Homo sapiens: one gene and its partners. The protein of the gene in region 3 purifies or fractionates together with the protein of the main gene of each other region. This does not show direct contact. Each region holds a gene or a part of one and is shown on either strand. Other genes may lie near its edges.

Region 1 (3,500 bases), on a different chromosome or scaffold from region 3:
GGTGCGTTTTTCTTTGTCAGTTGAAATGATCCTCTGGATTTTCTTTCCTTCATTCTATTAATGTATATTTAATTGATTGATTTTCTTATGTTGAACCATCCTTGCATTCCTAGGATAAGTACCACTTGGTCATGTTGTATAAGCCTTTTCATATGTTCAATTTGTTTTTTAGTATTTTATTCAGGATTTTTGCATCTATATTCATAAATTGGTTTATTTTCTTGTGATGTATTTGTCTGGCTTTGGTGTCAGGGTAATGCTTGCCTCATAGAACAAGTTAAAAAATATTTCCTCTTCTAACGTTTGAAAGAGTTGGAGAAAGATTGAGGTAAATTCCACTTTAAATATTTGCTAGAATTCACCAGTGAGGTCATCTAGTCCTAGACATTTTCTTTGTTGGGAGGTTTTTGAGTTCTGACTCGATCTGTTATTACAGATCTGTTCAGATTTTCCATTACTTCTTGAGTCAGGTTTGGTCATATATGTATGTTTCTGGGATTTTGTCCATTTTCTCTATGTTATCTAATTTGTAGGGATCGTACAGTTCTGTAACCTGATTTTTTTCCTCAGCAATGTACATTGATAGATTTCTTACTAAAGGTGGTGACTGTGTATGCTTGGGTAGCACTAGACTGTTTCCAGAGTCCTGTCACCTGCATTATCTTGTCTAATCCTCTTTAGAGTCCTGTGAGGAAGCCGAGGCAGGGATTATTCTAGATGCAGAAATCCAGGCTTAGGGAAGTCACTCAGCTAGTGGTGAACACTTAGTTATCCAGACTTCTGGACCTGTGCTCCTGTGCCATGCTGTACAAGAAGAAACTGAGAAATTAATACTGGTACAATGCCATCAGCTAAACTACAGACATTATTTGGATTTTCCACGTTTTCTCACTGATATCCTTTTTCTGTTCCATGATACCAGTTTGTATTTAGTCATCATGTCTCCTTAGTCTCCTCCAGTGTGTGACAGTGTTTTGGGCTTTCCCTGTCTTTCATGACCTTGACACTTTGGAAATTTTTAGCCGCAGAAGAAACAAGGCAAAAGCAATCATTTTTCTCACCATAACAATGGCTTCTCACACCGGACTTTCTCCCGAGGCTGTGGCAGTAATCAAGGAGAGATGCTGGGACCTGGAGACCCGTGTAGGAAGGCCTTGGCCGAGTACATTATCACTGTTGCCATTGGAGTTAAGTCCCCTGAGGGGCTCCCAGACTTCCAAGTTAACAGCTTTCAGAGCTGCAGACTCAGTTAAAGATTCAATGTGGGGAAAATTGGAAAACAGGGAACAGACCTGGTGATCTGACGATAATGATACTTTCTACTTCTTCTTCCCAAAGTGGTATTTCATTTTATTATTTTAGTCACAAACGCAACACATATTGACTACAGAACAATCAGAAGGTAGGTAAGCAGAGAAAAAAAGCATGTAAACACCCATAACCCAGTATATGGATGCTTTTTCAAATATACGTGTATGTCTAAATTTATATATACATATTTTTCTTATAAAAATGTAATCACATCATACTTTTTAAAGGAAAACTTCTATTTTCCTTTAATATATGATGAGCATGTTCCTGTTCTTCTACGAAGATAAACTTCTGCATCATCGTTTTTAACAGTGTCTGGAGTTTCCGTCGCCTACTGTTAGACAGTCTGGCTGTTTCCAGCTTTTCCCTGTCTTGAACAAGCACCATAACAAACAACATTGAACTCATTACATCTTTAATTACTTTCTTAGGATAACTATGTTCTTCCTTTTCATCATAGATATTCTTACTGATTCTCCGGGCTCTGCAGCTCTTGACCCGGCTGGTATTGTCTCTACAGCCAATTCCTCTGAAGTCAGCAACAGCAAAGGTGAGGTGCGCAGGGCTGCCAGAGAAGAGGAGCAATTGACAGGAAATTGTCACACTTAAAAAAATTGATCATTATTATATTTTTTAAGAGCTGGTATTCACGGAGTGTGGGTTCTTTCGAGCCTTGCACATACCCTGTGTTAGGGAAGACTTGGGCATGTGAGTGGGTATCTAGCAGCCTGAACTTCACGTGTGCAGAGTGGCCTGTGAGAGGCCTCGGCCCAGTGCTGCTTTTGTTCTGTTCTGTAAATTGTGTGGAATGGTGCCTGTCCTTGCTTGCTCCGTGGAGTGCTGATGAGTGAAGCACTGTGGATTTTGAGGTGGTCTGGGTTAGCTTCAAGAAGCTAAATGCTGTACTCATTGGGGTATTGGCATTGTCTGAAGCCTGATGGTCTAGAAGCTGATTTTCATAATATCTGTATTCTTAAAACTACAGCTGTATTAAGTCCATAAGTATTTGTTTGCAAAATGCGTATGTCCAAGGTGGGTAGTAGTACTGCTGAGGAAACTGAAACTCGGAGGTTAAGTAATTTACCTAATTTACGTAACCAATAAGAGTTAGAACTGGAATTCAGACCCATGTTTGGCTGTCCAAATCCCATGTTCTTTTCTCTTTACAGTTAGGGTGAAAAGAATTATACTGTGGCCTTATCTAAGATGCTACAGATTTTAGCCAATACATACATACAACCCTGAAGGATAGCTGGTTGATCACTGTCTGAGCTGGGGACATCTTGATGTATTGGTTCTCTAGCTGGTGACTTAACCCTATTAGATTACAGGATTTCTATCATATCATTAGCAAAAGAGGGGGGAGAAAAAAAAGCAAAATTTCTTATTCTGTTTAAGGGAAAGAAACCTTCCAAGGAAAGATTGACTGCGGATCCAGGAGGCTCCTCAGAAACTTCCAGCCAAGTTCTAGAAAACCACACCAAACCAAAGACCAGCAAAGGAACCAAACAAGAGGAAACCTTTGCTAAGGGCACCTGCAGGCCAAGTGCCAAAGGGAAGAGGAACAAGGGAGGCAGAAAGAAACGGAGCAAGCCCTCCTCCAGCGAGGAAGATGAGGGCCCAGGAGACAAGCAGGAGAAGGCAACCCAGCGACGTCCGCATGGCCGGGAGCGGCGGGTGGCCTCCAGGGTGTCTTATAAAGAGGAGAGTGGGAGTGATGAGGCTGGCAGCGGCTCTGATTTTGAGCTCTCCAGTGGAGAAGCCTCTGATCCCTCTGATGAGGATTCCGAACCTGGCCCTCCAAAGCAGAGGAAAGCCCCCGCTCCTCAGAGGACAAAGGCTGGGTCCAAGAGTGCCTCCAGGACCCATCGTGGGAGCCATCGTAAGGACCCAAGCTTGCCAGCGGCATCCTCAAGCTCTTCAAGCAGTAAAAGAGGCAAGAAAATGTGCAGCGATGGTGAGAAGGCAGAAAAAAGAAGCATAGCTGGTATAGACCAGTGGCTAGAGGTGTTCTGTGAGCAGGAGGAAAAGTGGGTATGTGTAGACTGTGTGCACGGTGTGGTGGGCCAGCCTCTGACCTGTTACAAGTACGCCACCAAGCCCATGACCTATGTGGTGGGCATTGACAGTGACGGCTGGGTCCGAGATGTCACACAGAGGTACGACCCAGTCTGGATGACAGTGACCCG
Region 2 (3,500 bases), on a different chromosome or scaffold from region 3:
GGCCAGGCATGGTGGCTCAATCCTAGCACTTTGAGAGGCCAAGGTGGGCAGATCACAAGGTCAGGAGTTCGAGACCAGCCTGACCAACATAGTGAAACCCCGTCTCTAGTAAAAATACAAAAATTAGCTGGGCATGGTGGTGTGCATCTGTAATCCAGCTACTCAGGAGGCTGAGGCAGGGAATCGCTTGAACCCAGGAGGCAGAGGTTGCAGTGATTGCTGCAGTGATTGATTGCAGAGCTGAGATTGCGCCATTGCACTCCAGCCTGGTGACAGAGCGAGACTCCGTCTCAAAAAAAAAAAAAAGTTTAGGCTGGGCAAAGTGGCTCATGCCTGTAATCGTAGCACTTTGGGGGGCCAAGGTGGGAGGATTGCTTGAGGCCAAGAGTTCAAGACCAACCTGGCCAACAAAGCAAGACCTCGTCTCTTTTTATATTAAAAAAAAAAAAAGCAGAAGGCATAAAGCAAAAGATTAATATTTCATTTCTTACATTAAAATTAAAAACTTCTTGCTCTACAAATAAACTAGCAGCTTTTTGTTCTTCAGAGACCCCATTAAGAGAGTGATTAGACAAGCCACAGAGTGGGAGAAGTTATTTGTAACACGTAACCAACAGAGAACTAGTAGTTAGAATTATTTAAATAACTCCTTTAGGTCAGTAAGAAGACAGATAACTTGAGAAAAATCAGGCCAAAGATGTGAACAAGTCCATTCATAAAAGAGGAAAATACAAACGGCTAAAAAAGCAAAAAAAAAAAAAAAAAGATTAGTCACATTGGTAGTCAGGAAGATGAAAATTAAAATCACAATGAGATACTACTGTAACCCTTGCCAGATTAGAAAAAAAAGCTAAAAGTCTGTCAACACCAAGTATTGGTGAAGATGTGGATTTGTGGATCAATGGCAACTCTCATATACTGCTTGTAAAACTATAATTTAGTACATCCTTTTTTCTTTCTCTTTTTTTTTTTTTTTTTTGAGACACAGTCTCACTTTGTCACTCAGGCTGGAGTGCAGTGGTACGATCTTGGCTCACTGCAACCTCTGCCTCCCAGGTTCAGGCGATTCTTGTCCCTCAGCCTCTTGAGTAGCAGGGATAATAGGCGTGGATCACTACACCCGGCTAATTTTTTTATTTTTAGTAGAGAAGGGGTTTTACCATGCTGGCCAGGCTGATCTTGAACTCTTGGCTTGAAGTGGTCCGCCTGCCTCGGCCTCCCAGAGTGCTGGGATTACAGGCATGAGCCCCCGTACCCAGCCTTGTACAACCTTTTTGAAAAGCTATTGGCCATTATCTATTAACATCAAAGTTTCTTATATTGTATGACCCAGCAATTTTACTGCTAGTGATATACCCTAGAGAAACTAGTGTATATGTGTACCAGGAGACACATACAAGAAGATAGCAGCATTGTATAAAATAGCGGAAAATAACAGCACAAATGCCCATCGGGGGGTAAATGAATCAGTTAATTGTGGTATAGTCATACAGTGGAATACGAAGTACTGCAAGAATGCGTGAAATCACAGTGGAATATAACAGTGTTCAACATGAAACAAGATGTGTGAAAGTAGCAGTTTGCAAGAGTTCGTATCATATGATTGTATTTATATAAAATCCAAAAAATAGTCAACATTAAACAATATGTATTTGGTGATAAAAATATATTTAGTAACATTTATAAAGAAAAGTCAGGGTGTTATTAACTCAAGATTCAGAATGGTGGTGACTTCCAAGGGTAGAGGGAGTCCACAGGGGCTTTGGAGATAAGGTCATGTCCCATTTATGGTAGATATTCTCTCTTGTATCATTGTTTCTATCAGTCTACGTACTATTTTATGAAAACATTAAAAAGGAGGACAGTTGTTTATAGTACCTGATAAGTAATAGTATTTATTAAACTTTTGTAGTTTTTAGTATTTTGGAACTCATTAGTGTTTTTGAGTTTATTTTATATGTACTTGACAATTCAATGTAAAAAACAAACATGGCTGGGCGCAGTGGCCCATGCCTGTAATCGCAGCACTTTGGGAGTTCGAGGCTCCCAAAGTTCAAGATCAGCTTGGGCAATACGGTGAAACTCCATCTCTACAAAAAATACAAAAATTACCCAGTCGTGGTAGCATGCGTCTGTGGTCGAAGCTAGTTGAGGGGCTGAGATGGGAGGATTGCTTGAGCCCAGGAGGTTGAGGCTGCAGTGAGCTGTGATTATGCCTCTGAGTAACAAAGTGAGACCCTGTCTCAAAAAAAAAACCAAAAAACACCAACACATACTCAATATAAATTTAAATTTCTTGATGCTTTATGGTTTTTGCTTTAAATTAGAAATTAAAGGATTTAAAAAATATATAAAATATATAAACATATGACAAATAAGAATCTTGATTATTTGGGTGAAGAAAGAAAACAAAATCACGAATTTAAATTTCCAGGGCTCTATTTTATGTTTTTCAGCAAGGTCATTTGAATATAAAATATTTAATAAGGACCTCAAATCATATTCTCTTGTTCAAGTACTTTAAAAGTTGATTCCAGAGCCCTTAAAATGTATGAAGGATGCTTTTCCAGACTGAGTCATAAGAAGTCCTAAAAGCCAAAGAATTTAAAGGGTTGTAAAGCAAATAGCCAGAGAAGTGTCAGACCTGTTTTATTTTTGATGTTACCTTCTGAAGGAATTTCTCCTGGGAAGTTTTTCCATTTGTATTTCGATCTCAAAACTAAATTTGGAAAAATCATCTTGTTCATATTATCAGTCTGGATGTGCATATTCATATCTCAAAAGTATTAATTGGAGGCAGATCACCAGTAGAAATTAAATTCAAATGAAAAATAATGTTGATACACTTTATGCTTTTGCTATTGATTTTTTAGCCTTAAAAGATTGGTAAAATATTAGTATTTTCCTTTTTCCCTTGCATGTTTACAACAGTGAAAAAATGTGTAGCTAAATATAGATTGAAAATGTGGCAGACCCCCGAGTTAAGCAGTCAGGTTTTCAGTACCATTCAGATTTGGTTCTTTGAGGTTAGAGTTCTCATCATCTCAAAGATGAGATTACTTCCTAGACCTAGAGATGTTATCAAATCAAGGCTGTGTACATTTTATTTCCTTGGTCTTTTTTTAGACTCCATAATCTGAATCATTGTTTTTATCAGATGCCAAATCTTTTATTTTCATTTGTTAATCATAATTTATCATTAGGAAACCAAATTGTGCATTGTTCATTTCTTATTTAGATTATGCTTAATAACTAGTAGGTTAGGATTCTTATAGACTGCTGGAGAGTGGCTTGGGTAAGGAACACATCTCTCTGAAATATTACCTCTATTGTGACATGACTAAATCATTGATGTAAATGATTAGGAAACTTAAAACCTACTTAACACATTGTATTTTTTTTTCTTCTTTTGGTATTTAGGTGTTCACTCAACTTGGATCTGTGCTGAAAAATTGTGACATTTCAGTACATCTGGTAGAGGTAAGCCAAAAATTAAGTGA
Region 3 (3,500 bases):
AACAAATATTTGCACACTTCTACATGTTTAATTTAATGTTCCTTGCCTGAAACAATCACCTGTCAATCAGTTCACCTAAAGCAGAGGAAAAAAAAGCAGGCAGAAATCATCAGTTTGTCCCAGTGATTAAAACTATATGTGCCTAGAAATAATGATTAATTAAAAATGTACTTTATTAACCATAATCCCACACTTAACATGAATACATTTCTATCTTGAGAGTTTATTTCATTGCTTTACTTCACAGAAGATTTTTCTGATATCACAGTTGTTAACATTATTTATAAAGCAATTAGTTTTTCCGTTTTTGTCAGCCCTAGTCCAATCTTCATACACAACAACACACCAATACACACACATATCACATACATCTATAAAAACGTGTTCCTGCTTTTTAGGATAAAGAAAACTTAGTACATATTGTTTCATGTATAAGAATCATCCATGGCTATATTAACACACAAATACAGGTAACTTGAACCAGGATACCTTGTTCCACATTTTACTTTTGTTATCTGAGTTAGCAGCCGGTGGGGGTACTTGGTACAGTGATATTGACTGTCTACACTGCCAAATGAAACTTTCCTCTTTTTCTCTTCAATCTGCCTGGTAAAAACAAATAGCTTTACATGATAGTTGACAAACAGATAGATGGATAGGCAGATAGACAGACAGGTAGATGAGAGATAAAATAAGCCACAACATTTCTCACCAAATAGTATCTCCCTGATCTGGCATTACTATCCAACAGGTCCCATGAATTAACGCAAACTCTATATGACTGTAATGTTAACTCACAAATATTGAGCATTTAAAATATCCCAGGCACTCGATTGTCAGTCACATGTGTTACGTTAATCCTTACAGCAGCCTTATAAAGTGGGTATTATTATTCCTCTTATTTTGTAGATGAACAACTAAGTCTTAGATAGGTTAGGTATACAACTGGCTCAAGGTCACAAACAAAGCAGGTAAGTGGCAGACCTGGGATTTGAACCCAGTTTTGTCTAACTGTAAAGACTGTGCTCCTAGCCTCTTAACAATGCTACTACCCGGTAGTATACAAGCATTTGCTACCATAAAAAAATACTTTAGGAAACTAAAATTGTCACTGATTCAGTTAATTTCCCAGGACAAAAGAAAACCTGGTAGCCTTTAGGGGTTCTATCTAACCATCTGATTTGGACACTCTGAATCATTGTTTATTATCACTTTTGAATGGCTCCACAAAGGAATCATTTGTTGTCAGAGGTTAGTGGCATTGTCTTACCTTCAGTCCCAAGGGCATGAATTTAGCGAAAGCCCAGAGTGTCAAGTAAATAATACCCTCTTCAGAGCATTGCCTCATGGAGAGGGAGGTGCCCTGAGAAGATCACAGACTCTACCTTGGAACGCTTAGATTCCAATTCCTGCTCTTCCATTTTAGCTTTATGACTTTGGGCAGGTCCTTGAAGACCTCAATTTGGTTTCATCCGTGCAATGGAGATGACTCCTCCTGTGAGACATCATTCCTAGAAGTACTTAGAAGTTCCTGCCTCCCATGAGGTGCTCCATAAGTGTTCTTTCACTCCTAACTAGATGGAACCCTTAAAGGGAGTTTTTCTTTTTTTTTTTTTTTCTTTTTGAGACGGAGTCTCGCTCTGTCGCCCAGGCTGGAGTGCAGTGACGCGGTCTCTGCTCACTGCAAGCTGCGCCTCCCGGGTTCACTCCATTCTCCTGCCTCAGCCTCTCAAGTAGCTGGGACTACAGGCGCCTGCCACCACACCCGGCTAATTTTTTGTATTTTTAGTAGAGACGGGGTTTCACCATGTTAGCCAGGATGGTCTCGATCTCCTGACCTCGTAATCCGCCCGCCTCTGCCTCCCAGAAAGGGAGTTTTTCTTCAAGTTAGTTTCCTCTCACAGAAGCCTTGGTCAATGCAAGTATTCCTTCACACCCATCTGTCACCTTTAGAATGAGGCTTTTAAGGATCCCTTTGGCTATTGCATAGTGAGTTATACATGAGTGTGGAGTTCTCTAGCACAGAAGCAGCATCTGACTTAATCTTTGGAAGCAACTGTAAGATTGCACAGTTAACCCAGTAGTAAATTACACAAACATGGAAAATAGAAATCCTTTTTATTGAAAAGGGGGTGTGAAGTCAGGGTGGGAGAAGGAGCCTATTGACCTTAGAAGTTAACAGTGCTACACCAGGCTTTTTCTGCACGGTTGTTATGTTTCAGGGGCCATGATGTGATCTGGGTGTATCTAAAATCTATTGAAGAGAGAGGTTTTTTTTCTGAAAGAGTTTCACTGTATTTCAAAATCAGAGAAAGCAAATCTCTCAAAAACAGAAAAAGCCCTGCAAATAAGATGACTTTTAAATGAGCATCTCATTTACAAAAAGCCTATTGAGAAATAAAATTTGCACCATTAACTAAAGGGCAAAATATCACGATTATCACTCGGACTTGTTAAAAGCAAACTTGCTCCTTGGTCGTTCAGGCCAGTGTTACATGTAAACTGAAACCCTCTTCTGAGACTACATCTAGAAGAAACACATTAGCTGTGCTGTGTGGCGTCAATCTGGGAGGTTTTCATTGTTCTTTAAAACCCACATTATTTAATCATTCTAATCAAACTCCACAAAGGCTGCAAAACAAGTTAGGGTTTTAGTTTGTAAACCAGCTTAGATCCAGGATTTTTACATATTGGAAAACATCAGCTTTAATATTGTTTTCCTGTGTTTAATGCTCTTCAGGATATTATTTTTCAAAAAAGACAAACAAAACATTCAGGAGGCTTGTTTTGTTTTAACATATGCAATACTGTAGAAGTGTATATTTGGTTTTCCTTTGCCAGAATAGAATTTGGCTTTATACTACAAACCCATGTATAACAGAGGCATAACTAATTCTCACTATTTATTGCTCACATCAAGAGAGAAAAGGGAGATATGGTCGGAATTCTCATTGGTAAGAACTGAAATTTCAGACTGTTACCAGCACTATTATGCGAATATTTACAACAATCATATCTCATTAAAAGTGTCATTTCTCCCTTGTTTGCCCTCATTAATATTTTTATGTTTTAAACTTCAGATTCAAAACTGTACACTTAATTTTATGATATATTTAGAAGCAAGTCCATGAAGATTAGGAGAAATGTTAAATGGGAAATATAATTATTTCTTTCTCTAAGAAGTTCTGTACTCCAGGCTCTTCAATGTACTGCATATTTTAAAAACTAATTAGGAAAGAAATTCACTAGCAAATACATCTCTTGAGCTTGAAAACAGTGCTTAGCACTAGTGCCTCGTGTACAGGAGGTGTTCACTATATACTTGTTGAAGGAAGGGAAGGAGGGAGGCAAAGAGAGAGGCAGGGAGGAACGGAGGGAGGGAGGGAGGAAGGGAGGAAGGGAGGGAGTGAGGGAGGGAAGGAAAGAAGGAAGGAAGGAAAAAAAGGAAGGAGGAAGAAGGGAGGGAGGGAGGGCAAGAGGAAAGGAAGGAAAAGTGTTTA
Region 4 (3,500 bases), on a different chromosome or scaffold from region 3:
TATCCAGAAGTGAAAACAAATTTAAATGTTAATTGTTTAATCAGTTTGATTTTTTATCACTCCTCTCTTGGTCCATAACAATAAACTTCTGGTGCCAGCCGCAGTGGCTCACGCTTGTAATCCCAGCACTTTGGGAGGCCAAGACGGGCGGATCATGATGTCAGGAGATCGAGACCATCCTGGCTAACATGGTGAAACCCCGTCTCTACTAAAAATACAAAAAAAAATTAGCCGGGCGTGGTGGCGGGCGCCTGTAGTCCCAGCTACTCCGGAGGCTGAGGCAGGAGAATGGCGTGAACCCAGAGGCGGAGCGTGCAGTGAGCCGAGATCGCGCCACTGCACTCCAGCCTGGGCGACAGAGCGAGACTCCGTATCAAAAAAAAACAAAAACAAAAAAACGAAAAAAACAATAAACGTCTGGAAATAGGGCCTAAGATTTTATAAGAAACTTAGTAGGCCGGGCGTGATGGCTCACGCCTGTAATCCCAGCACTTTGGGAAGCTGAGGCGGGTAGATCACCCAAGGTCACGAGTTCAAGACCAGACTGGCCAACATGATGAAACCCTGTCTCTACTAAAAATACAAAAAAAATTAGCTGGGCATAGTGGCGGGCACCTGTAATCCCAGCTACCTGAGAGGCTGAGGCAGAAGAATCGCTTGAACCCGGGAGCTGGAGGTTGCAGCGAGCTGAGACTGAGCCATTGCACTCCAACCTGGGCAACAAGAATCAAACTCCAGCTCAAAAAAAAAAAAAAGAACCTTAGTAAATAACAGAGCCAAGACTAGAAAGGCACATTCTATCCTCATTCTTACTGTCCCTTTGGGATTACAAAGATCAGTGAGAGCACCCCTGAGGTGAGAAGTAGAAAGGATTCAAGATATCCTGGCCTGTCCCAGTCCAGGAATGATCTAAGCTATTCTGCTTTACCCTGAGTAAGAAGAAACAGGAGTAGGTGTGGTGCCTCATGCTTGTAATCTCAGGACTTTGGGAGGCCAAGACAAGAGGACTGCTTGAGCCCAGGAATTCGAGACCAGCCTGGGCAACATAGTGAAACCTCATCTTTACAAAAAAAAAAGAAAAAAAATCAGCTGGGCAGAGTGGCACGTGCCTGTAGTTCCTGATACTGAGGAGGCTGAGGTGGGAGGATCACTTGAGCCTGAGGATCTTGAGGCTGCAGTGAGCCATGATTGTGCCACCCAGCCTGGGCAACAGAGCACAGTTTTGCCTCTAAAAAATAAAATAAAAAAAGAAGATGTGTTTCTTTCGAAAAGTATAGTGAGAGTTACCTGAGTATTGGTGGCATAGTCCATCTGTAGCATATCATATTTTCCAGGCACCTTCTCAAACTTTTCTCGATCTTCCCAATTGTTTTTCGTTTTGTCAAGGAATCTGTAGAGTCCAAGGTGTAAGAAAACTTTACAAATAAAGGTCTACTATGAAGATGGACTTACAAGACAGAAAATCTCCAAAGAATTTATTTTCCAGCACTGAGCTCCTTTACACATCAACTTTCCATAAATCAAAATTAGTCTAATTCTAAATGAGGACACTAAATGGACAAAAAAGCTCTGGAGACAAATGGAATTTAAAAAATGGGAAAAACAATGCTTGTCCTTCCCAAACACCACAAAAGCCATTGAGATTTCAAACAAAAGATATCCATCTAATCTCTTTCCCTGAAAGAAACATGTTCTCCAATTCTCCAGAAAGTTCTTCATCTATATCATAAAGTTTTAAAAATTCTAACTGAATATTCTCTTTTTTTCTTTCCTTTTTTTTGGGGGAGAGTCAGGGGTCTCGCTTTGTTGCCCAGGCTGGTCTCAAACTCCTAGCTTCAAGCAATCCTCCTGCCTCAACCTCCCAAAGTGCTGGGATTACAGGCATCACCGTGCTCAGCCCCTAGTTGAATATTATCTATCCCAGGATAGTCTCCACTTATCCCAAATTTCCTAAATTTGTCAGTCATGTGTTAAATATATTAGATTCTTCTGTTTTTAGTGACTTTCAAGGTATTAGTTTGATTTAATCACTAAGGATGCAGTTTGGTGTTTCAACCACAGAATGTCAGGGTGAAAAGACATTAACATTTAGGCCAAATCACACCTATAAAACGAAAAGTTTTTTATAAGCCACACACTTATAAAATTCTTAGAGAAGGCAGGGCACGGTGGCTCACGCCTGTAATCCCGCACTTTGGGAGGCTGAGGCAGGCGGATCACCTGAGGTCAGGGGTTCGAGACCAGCCTGGCCAACATGGCGAAACCCCATCTCTATTAAAAATACAAAAATTAGCTGGGCGTGGTGGTGGGCGCCTGTAATCCCAGCTACTAGGGAGGCTGAGGCAGGAGAATCACTTAAACCCAGGAGGTGGAGGTTGCAGTGAGCTCAGATCATGCCATTGCACTCCAGCCTGGGCAACAAGAGTGAAACTGTCTAAAAAAAAATTTTTTAGAGAATATACATCTAAGAAGAGGAGGGTATATTTTTTTGTAGTCACTTTTCAGCACTCACTTCTTCTGAAAGATTTCCTTGGCCTTGTTGAGATTGCCTGAACAAGCCACCAGGCTGTGCTGTCCCATTTTCCCAACTGCAAAGGAAATGCCACACATAAGATAGTTCCCTAAGAGTAACAGGCCAGCTCTCCAAGATCTCTCTGCTTAACATCTGACAAACAGGCAGGAAAGGGAGAAGGGAAAGGTGAAAGGATTTAGGGAACTAATCATGTTGATACAAGTTACTTGCTAACTGCCATAGTCTATGAGCACTACTAGCAGTTCAACTATAGAAGAGTTTTCAGACTCAATGGGCTGCTCTTAGTTTTTCCAGTGGGAACTCTAAGGAGGATGCCTGCCATTCCCCAATTTCAAGATGCTCAACTTGATTCCTAAGGCTCTCCCAGACTTCAGAGCCTCTACTGACCCAATTTAAACCCAGAGAATCCTTTGGCCACCCACTAAGCTGCTTCTGACTTTCTGAATGCCAACTCATAAAATCTCAATAAAAATCATTACCTCGGCCCCATCTCATCCAAACACTGAAGTTCCTCTGGGCATCATCTTCTAATAGCTGAATCAGATAGTACTTGTTGTTGTTGAACTGGAGATTGGTCTATGTTGAGTGAAAACAAAAACAAAAAAAAGGAGTTTTGCAAATGGAAATCACATAAACCAATGACTCATCCTTCGTCACAGGTGCCAGTTATTTCCATAAGGAAAAGGATAGCATCAGGCAAGAAAATTAGATTCCTGTAAGATTAAAGATATAAAGAAGAAATAGGGCTTATACATTAAACTTTGGATTCTTAGGAATTAAAGTGGGAGCCTAGAAGCTTCCTAAAACCCTCTATCCAACCTCAAATATCCTACATTGAATGGCTCCTCCAGTTTTTTCCTGCCTCAGCTCCCTATTTAGATATTTTCTAAGCTATATGTGTTTTCCAGCTCCCAATCCACTCCCAATAATTATTTCCCAAATGAAAACAATTTGGATGCTCCAAAGG
Region 5 (3,500 bases), on a different chromosome or scaffold from region 3:
AAGTAAAAGCCCAGTGAAACAAGATTTAATTCTTTTCTCAATAATTCAGGCCTTGCAAGACCTCTGGCTTATTATAAAACACATCAGTTCTCCCAGTAAAAGAGGTATGTGAAGCTAAGGTTAAAGAGTGCAGGTGACAGTGAGGCTGGCAGGGTGAGTGATCGTGGGTCCCTACAACAAACAGGGTTTCCAGATATTGGAGCACCTACTTACATGCCTACCTGTGCTAGCCTAACTCAAACAACAATAGCTACCATTTTGGGAGCGCTTCACATACATAATCTCATTTCATCCCCGATGTGACATCCTATGTGACAAATATTGTTTTCATTTTTGGATGATAAAACTGAAGGTTAGAGAGAATAGGTGCTTGCTTAAGTTACACTAAAAAATGGCAAGAATGAGATTTGAATCTAGGCCCACCTATAAAACCTGTGTGGTTAACCACTAAGCTATATAACCCATGCCAGTCTTTAAATGACAAACTATAGAACAGACTCCAGGAGGCATTTTTATAAAAGTCAGAAAGGCCACTACTGCAGGTGGCCGCAGTCCCATCTCTGGGATGGAGATCTCACTGTTTTGATGCTGGCTATCCCACATTCCTAGCAGGGAGAGAACACTTGCCTATCTCAAACATAAAACCCTAAACCAAGGTTTTAGTATGACAAACAAGACAGTTTCAAAAAAAGCACTGTACATCACTCAAAAATCCAAAGAATCTCACAGTAGGCATGGCACCATATGTGGTGGGCCCTGTCACACAGGAAAACCAACACTGGAAAGGAAACCCCATTTCTTACGAAATGAGCAGAGGCCTAAGATGATGTCTGTCAGAGTCAGCCTTCATTCCTTATGTGTCCTCCCTCTTCCCAAGTCACCCTGTCACAGGAAGCCTGGCTCTGCTACCAACTCTCAGATCTACTTTGCAGTAGGTCACAGAATCTCAGGGGTTACTTAATACATCCGTCTTCAGGTAAGATAACAGATAAATCATTCTAGGGGGATGCCTCAGGCAGTCTCAGACGTCATCCACACAGGAGACTGAAGGACAAGAGAGGCAAGTCACTCATCTAAGATTCTACAGCATCTTGGTGGCGTAGCTGGGCCTACAACTCAGGTCTTTCCACTAGATCCTCTGTCTTCTCCTTTGCCTTCGCCTCCTACAGAGAAATACCCCCTTGCACCTCCCTCTTCCTTCCCTAAACTTCTCCAGTCAATTTGCAAGTGCTCTCAACACTCATACCCTATCTGATCTCAGCCCAAAGGATGTGGAGCTTGGAGAGGCTGGAAAGCAGAGGCAGGGGAGCACTCCTCACCAACATGGGCTGCACAGGTGTCATCAGCGAGGCCTGGACGCTCAGAGCTCGTCTCTGGCCCGGCTCCTTCTCCACCTCCTGCGCGTTGTGAAGGACCCGCTCCACCACATCCTGCAGGTTGCGCGAGGCTTTGAAGGCTTCATAGGCATTGGGGTCAAGGGCGTCTAACCTGCCAAGGGGTACAGGAACAAGGAAACAAAACCACTGCCTTTGTTTGACTCCATGGCTTTGGACAGCAATCTGTCCTCACAGAAGAAATCCTCATCTGTAGGGAAGGGGTTGTGTTCTATTGTCTAAAGACTTTCACAAGAGGAGAGAAAGCTCTTGGAAAATTCAGCTCTTTTGAGATACTGTGCCTATGTGGATGCCGCCTTAGCGAGGAGGGGGCTGGAGTAGGCAAGAGACTCATACTATACTCACTGAACGTATGCCACACTTCAACTGTAAGAACTCTGTGAGAAAGGTACTGTTATCTCCATTTTATATGGGAAAAAATGGAGGCAGAGACAGGTCAAGTGACAGATCAGGGTCTCACAGAAAGTAAGAAGGTGGAAGGGGGATTCAAATCCTGACTGGGACTCAAAAGTCCTGACACCAGTTGGGAACAAACAAAGCTAACAAATGACAGCTCAGGCTGTCAGCGGAGCTGCTACTTACACATGTTTTGCACCTGAGTTCATCTTCAGATCATGTTTGATCAACCTGATGATGCATTTAAGGTCATTGGCTGTACACCTAGGGGGATGAAGCACATTTAACTTGGTCTTGAAGAGCTCTGGAACCCCAAGGGAACCTTCCCTTCCCAAGAGAGTTCATCTCTCTATGGGCATGGTTTGACGGAGGCAGCTCCCCCACCTGGAGGCAATGTCCTGTAGGGCCTGTTGCTGCTCATCCTCCTTGGTGAGCTTGGACAGCCGCAGAAGGAACTCATCCACTTCCTGGATGGTAAGGAGGCTCTTGGCAGCTGGGGGGAAAGACTTGCTCTGCTCAAAGAAGACTCTGATTGTCTCTGACACGTCACCCTGTCTCCAAAAACCAAAATGCCACTGCTGCAACCCTAGGGTGGCCAAGTGTATCCCCCAAGACCCAGGACTGAAGATGAATCAAGAAATTTCAATCATAGCTCCTATCCCAACTCAACATATCTAGCCCACTTCTTAGAGACACTAGCCCATCCACAATTCCTAGAAGGGGATGGAAACTTGCCATGGTACCAGGGATAGAGTCACGGACAAACCAAAGCTTGGTAAAGCCAAGTTATAGGAGAAAACAAGCAAGAAAAAAAGAGTCCAGAATAAAAGCCCCAGGAGAGACAGAGGGGGCAAGTCTCAAATTCTGCCTTTTGAGAACCAGGCCTTTGTGGTTCAGCAGTTGTATGGTTTCCACCCTCAGAAACTTAAGAAATTAAGAGCTATAGCCTCACATTCAGCTCCCCCTATAACGGAAGCTTGCTCAAATGGGTTTCAGTTTCCTAAAACAGTATGTGTCCCAACCAGAAAAAAAAAAAGAGGCTGCAGGTGCCTGGCTTGGCAAAACCCCACCTGGAATGTAGCCTACCCTCCCTCCCGTTCCTCTGACCTGCTCTAGGTCCCGTGCCATATCATCTGGGTTGCAGTTAAAAATGCGACTGAAAAGCTTCACAATCTGCTTATCGTTCAAGTTGTAAACAGTCTTAATGACTCCTGGCAGCAGCAGCTTCACTGTTAGGTACACATCACCGTGGAAACCATCTGGAGACAGAAGGAACCCTTCTTGAGAAATAGAGCTTAAACAAATAAATATATAAACTCAAAGAAGGCTGGGCAAGGTGGCTCACACCTGTAATCTCAGCACTTTGGGAGGCCGAAGCAGGAGAATTGCTTAAGCTCACAAGTTTGAGACCACCCTGGCAACAAAGAAAGACCCCATCTCTACAAAAAATTAAAAAATTAGCTGGACATGGTGGCATATGCCTATGGTTCCAGCTACTTGCAGGAGAAGACAGGAGGGTTGCTTTAGCTCAGGAGGTCGAGGCTATAGTGAGCTGTGATCACACCACTGTACTCCAGCCTGGGCGACAGAGCAAGACACTGTCTCACACACACACACAAAAATAAATAAAAAAATAAACTCAGACCGCGCATGGTGGCTCACGCCTGTGATCCCAGCACTTTAGCAGGTTGAGGTAGGCAGATTAATTGA
Region 6 (3,500 bases), on a different chromosome or scaffold from region 3:
AGAGGGAGGAGCTTCTATTAAAGACATTTTTAAAAACCTGATTGGGAAGAAATAAACATAAATATAAGCTCTTCAAAGCCAAAAGTCACAGGAATACAATCACCATTCTAATGATATGGTGTATAACTGACGCCTCTTGCATCAGTTAAATTTTCCTCAAACTATTGTATATTAGCTTTTTTTTTTTGTAATGAAGAGCTGAGATGGGACCATATTTTATTAAAAAGAGAACTCCTCATAAATTATAAAGTGATCACCCCATATCCAGGAACCTTTAGGTTGTTAACAGTTGTTATTCTTAAGACAGCGACATATTCTACATATGACGAGGCTGACTACTTTCTCTTGCTTATGATTGAAATATTTTAGAAATATTTTAGCACCTACCTGGCCATACAGATGATAATCAAATTCATAGATCTTGTTGAATTTTGAAAGTCCTTCTCTCTATAAAACAAAAATAAGTAAAAAATATAAATTACGTTTAAAACAATGGATTCCTTTGTATAATTCTTTCTGATCCTGAATTTGGCAATGATTTCTTGGTTATGATACCAAAAATATAACCAACATTGCTCCAAAGAAGATAAGAAATGGCCAACAAGCATATGAAAAGATGCTCAATGTTATTAATCATTAGGAAAACACAAATCAAAACCATGATGAGGTACCACTCCATACCCATTAGGATAATAATTAAATAGAATAATAAAAAAAACAAGTAAAATAACAAGTGTTGTTGAGGATGTGGAGAAATTGGACATTGTCAGTGGAAATGTAAAATGCTTTGGCCACTCTGGAAAATGTTGGTGTTTCCTCAAAAAGTTACAGAGTTATCACATGTCACAGCAATTCCACTCCTACAAATTTACCCAAAAGAATTAAAAACGCATTCAAATACACTTTGGGAGGCTGAGACAGTTGGATCACTTTAGGTCAGGAGTCCGAGACCAGCCTGGCCAACATGGTGAAACCCCATCTCTACTAAAAATACAACAATTGGCCAGGTGTGGTGGTGTGTGCCTGTAATCCCAGTTACTTGGGGAGGCTGAGGCAGGAGAATCACTTGAGCCCAGGAGGTGGACGTTGCAGTGAGTGGAGATGGCGCCACTGCACTCTAGCCTGGGTGACAGAGCGAGACTGTCTCAAAAAACAAAAAACAAACAAAAAAACACATTCAAACAAAAACTTGTACATGAAAGTCTATAGAAGTTCTTTTTTTTTTTTTTTTTTGAGATGGAGTCTGGCTCTGTCGCCCAGGCTGGAGTCCAGTGGCGTGATCTCGGCTCACTGCAAGCTCCACCTCCCGGGTTCACACCATTCTCCTGCCTCAGCCTCCCGAGTAGCTGGGACTACAGGCACCTGCCACCACGCCCGGCTAATTTTTTTGTATTTTTAGTAGAGATGGGGTTTCACCGTGTTAGCCAGAATGTTCTCAATCTCCTGACCTCGTGATCCACCTGCCTCGGCCTCCCAAAGTGCTGGGATTACAGGTGTGAGCCACCACGCCCAGCGAATGTCTATAGAAGTTCTATTCACAATAGTCAAAAGATGAAAACAACCCAAATGTCCATCAACTGATGTATGGTAAAATGAAATATGATCTATCCATATGATAGAATATTATTCAGCCATAAAAAGGAATGAAGAGGCCAGGTGCAATGGCTCATGCCTGTAATTCCAGCACTTTGGGAGGCTGAGGTGGGCGGATCATGAGGTCAGGAGTTTGAGACCAGCCTGGCCAACATAGTGAAACCCTGTCTCTACTAAAAATACAAAAAATTAGCTGGGCGTGGTGGTGGGTGCCTGTAATCCCAGCTACTTGGGAGGCTGAGGCAGGAGAATCGCTTGAACCTGGGAGGCGGTGGTTACAATGAGCCGAGATCTCATCACTGCACTCCAGCCTGAGCGACAGTGAGAGAGACTCCTTCTCAAAAACCAAAAAAAAGGAATGAAGAACTGATATTAATACATGGTACAACATGGATGGACTTCAAGATTATGTTAAGTGAAAGAAACCTGACACAAAAGAGCATGTAAGATATGGGTCCACTTATAGGAAATGCCCAGAACAGGCAAATCCATGGGGAAAGAAGGCAGATTCGTGGTTGTGAGGGGCTGAGGAGAGGGTAAGGGGAGTGACTGCTTAATGGATATGAGGCTTCCTCTTGGGGTGAAAAAAAACCTTCTGGAACTAGATAATGATGATGGTGGCACATTTAGTGGACAAAATTCCACTGAACTATATACTTCAAAATGATTAAAATGGTCAATTTTCTGTGCATTTTACCACTCAACCTACATGGCTCTCTAAGATTCTTATGATCTGCACTCAACTGCTGCTCTTGCTTAACTCATCGGTGTCTCTTCCCACCACACCACACCCCTAACTTCTCACTGTTTCTGAATATGCCAAGCAGTTTCAAGCCACTAGGTTGTTCTTTACAGTTTCTACTGCCTGGTAAAACTTTCAGGCTCAGCTCAAACATGCATTCAACAACTATGAATTTTTTTTTTTTTTTTTGAGACAGAGTCTCACTCTGTTGCCCAGGCTGGAGTGCAGTGGCACAATCTCGGCTCACTGCAAGCTCCACCTCCCGGGTTCATGCCATTCTGCTGCCTCAGCCTCCCGAGTAGCTGGGACTACAGGCGTCTGCCAGCATGCCCGGCTAATTTTTTGTATTTTTAGTAGAGACAGGGTTTCACCGTGTTAGCCAGGATGGTCTCAATCTCTTGACCTCATGATCCGCCCACCTCAGCCTCCCAGAGTGCTGGGATTACAGGTATGAGCCACCATGCCTGGCCTAATTTTTTTTTGAGATGGAGTCTCACTCTGTCGCCCAGGCTGTAATGTAATGGCGCAATCTAGGCTCACTGCAAGCTCCACTTCCCGGGTTGAAGCGATTCTCCTGCCTCAGCCTCGTGAGTAGCTGGGATTACAGGACCCCGCCACCACACCTGGCTAATTTTTGTATTTTTAGTAGAGATGGGGTTTTGCCATGTTGGCCAGGCTGGTCTTGAACTCACGACCTCAGGTGGTCTGCCCGCTTGAGCCTCCCCAACTGCTGGGATTACAGGCATGAGCCGCTGCGCTCAGCCCAAGTATTAATATTTATTGAAAGTTTCCTGCATTCCAGACACCATATTAGGCGTTAGGACATAGCAATTAACAAAATATAATCACTGTCCTTTGGAGTTTAGAGTCCAAGGAGAGGCAGTGACAAAAATCAAATAAATGATCGCACATCCCATTATTTAACTGTAACTAGTAGATGCCTTTCAAGTAGAATAGAGTGCTATGACAGCATGTCAGTAAGGGTCTCTGACCTAGTGTGGGGGAACAGGTGGTGAGGGAAGGATTCCTTGAAGATGAGACATTTCAGCAGCCTCTCTCCTCTAGCCGCCCCAGATGCCAAAAGGAAAGATGGCCAAGGGGAAGAAGTGGCCCTGGCCCCTGTTGTCATGGAGCAGCAGTAGGCCAAAAAGGTGGTAAATCCCAT

Evidence for each region.
Region 1: the proteins of HMGA2 (region 3) and XPC purify together in Homo sapiens (affinity purification with mass spectrometry; one large-scale study listed by BioGRID and IntAct). This does not show direct contact.
Region 2: the proteins of HMGA2 (region 3) and NDUFAF7 purify together in Homo sapiens (affinity purification with mass spectrometry; one large-scale study listed by BioGRID and IntAct). This does not show direct contact.
Region 4: the proteins of HMGA2 (region 3) and PARP2 purify together in Homo sapiens (affinity purification with mass spectrometry; one large-scale study listed by BioGRID and IntAct). This does not show direct contact.
Region 5: the proteins of HMGA2 (region 3) and LIG3 purify together in Homo sapiens (affinity purification with mass spectrometry; one large-scale study listed by BioGRID and IntAct). This does not show direct contact.
Region 6: the proteins of HMGA2 (region 3) and TOP3A purify together in Homo sapiens (affinity purification with mass spectrometry; one large-scale study listed by BioGRID and IntAct). This does not show direct contact.

The regions. Positions count from the first base shown.
Region 1 is NC_000003.12:14,158,102-14,161,601, reverse strand, and holds part of XPC (DNA repair protein complementing XP-C cells), read left to right. Parts: intron 1-1,771; coding exon 1,772-1,861; intron 1,862-2,709; coding exon 2,710-3,500. UniProt on the Homo sapiens protein: Involved in global genome nucleotide excision repair (GG-NER) by acting as damage sensing and DNA-binding factor component of the XPC complex. Has only a low DNA repair activity by itself which is stimulated by RAD23B and RAD23A.
Region 2 is NC_000002.12:37,238,158-37,241,657, forward strand, and holds part of NDUFAF7 (protein arginine methyltransferase NDUFAF7, mitochondrial), read left to right. Parts: intron 1-3,420; coding exon 3,421-3,500. UniProt on the Homo sapiens protein: Arginine methyltransferase involved in the assembly or stability of mitochondrial NADH:ubiquinone oxidoreductase complex (complex I).
Region 3 is NC_000012.12:65,834,483-65,837,982, reverse strand, and holds part of HMGA2 (high mobility group protein HMGI-C), read right to left. Parts: intron 1-3,500.
Region 4 is NC_000014.9:20,350,135-20,353,634, reverse strand, and holds part of PARP2 (poly [ADP-ribose] polymerase 2), read right to left. Parts: intron 3,110-3,500; coding exon 3,013-3,109; intron 2,589-3,012; coding exon 2,513-2,588; intron 1,391-2,512; coding exon 1,288-1,390; intron 1-1,287. UniProt on the Homo sapiens protein: Poly-ADP-ribosyltransferase that mediates poly-ADP-ribosylation of proteins and plays a key role in DNA repair.
Region 5 is NC_000017.11:34,990,512-34,994,011, reverse strand, and holds part of LIG3 (DNA ligase 3 isoform alpha precursor), read right to left. Parts: intron 3,050-3,500; coding exon 2,898-3,049; intron 2,342-2,897; coding exon 2,175-2,341; intron 2,055-2,174; coding exon 1,977-2,054; intron 1,489-1,976; coding exon 1,320-1,488; intron 1-1,319. UniProt on the Homo sapiens protein: Isoform 3 functions as a heterodimer with DNA-repair protein XRCC1 in the nucleus and can correct defective DNA strand-break repair and sister chromatid exchange following treatment with ionizing radiation and alkylating agents.
Region 6 is NC_000017.11:18,308,495-18,311,994, forward strand, and holds part of TOP3A (DNA topoisomerase 3-alpha), read right to left. Parts: intron 448-3,500; coding exon 388-447; intron 1-387. UniProt on the Homo sapiens protein: Releases the supercoiling and torsional tension of DNA introduced during the DNA replication and transcription by transiently cleaving and rejoining one strand of the DNA duplex.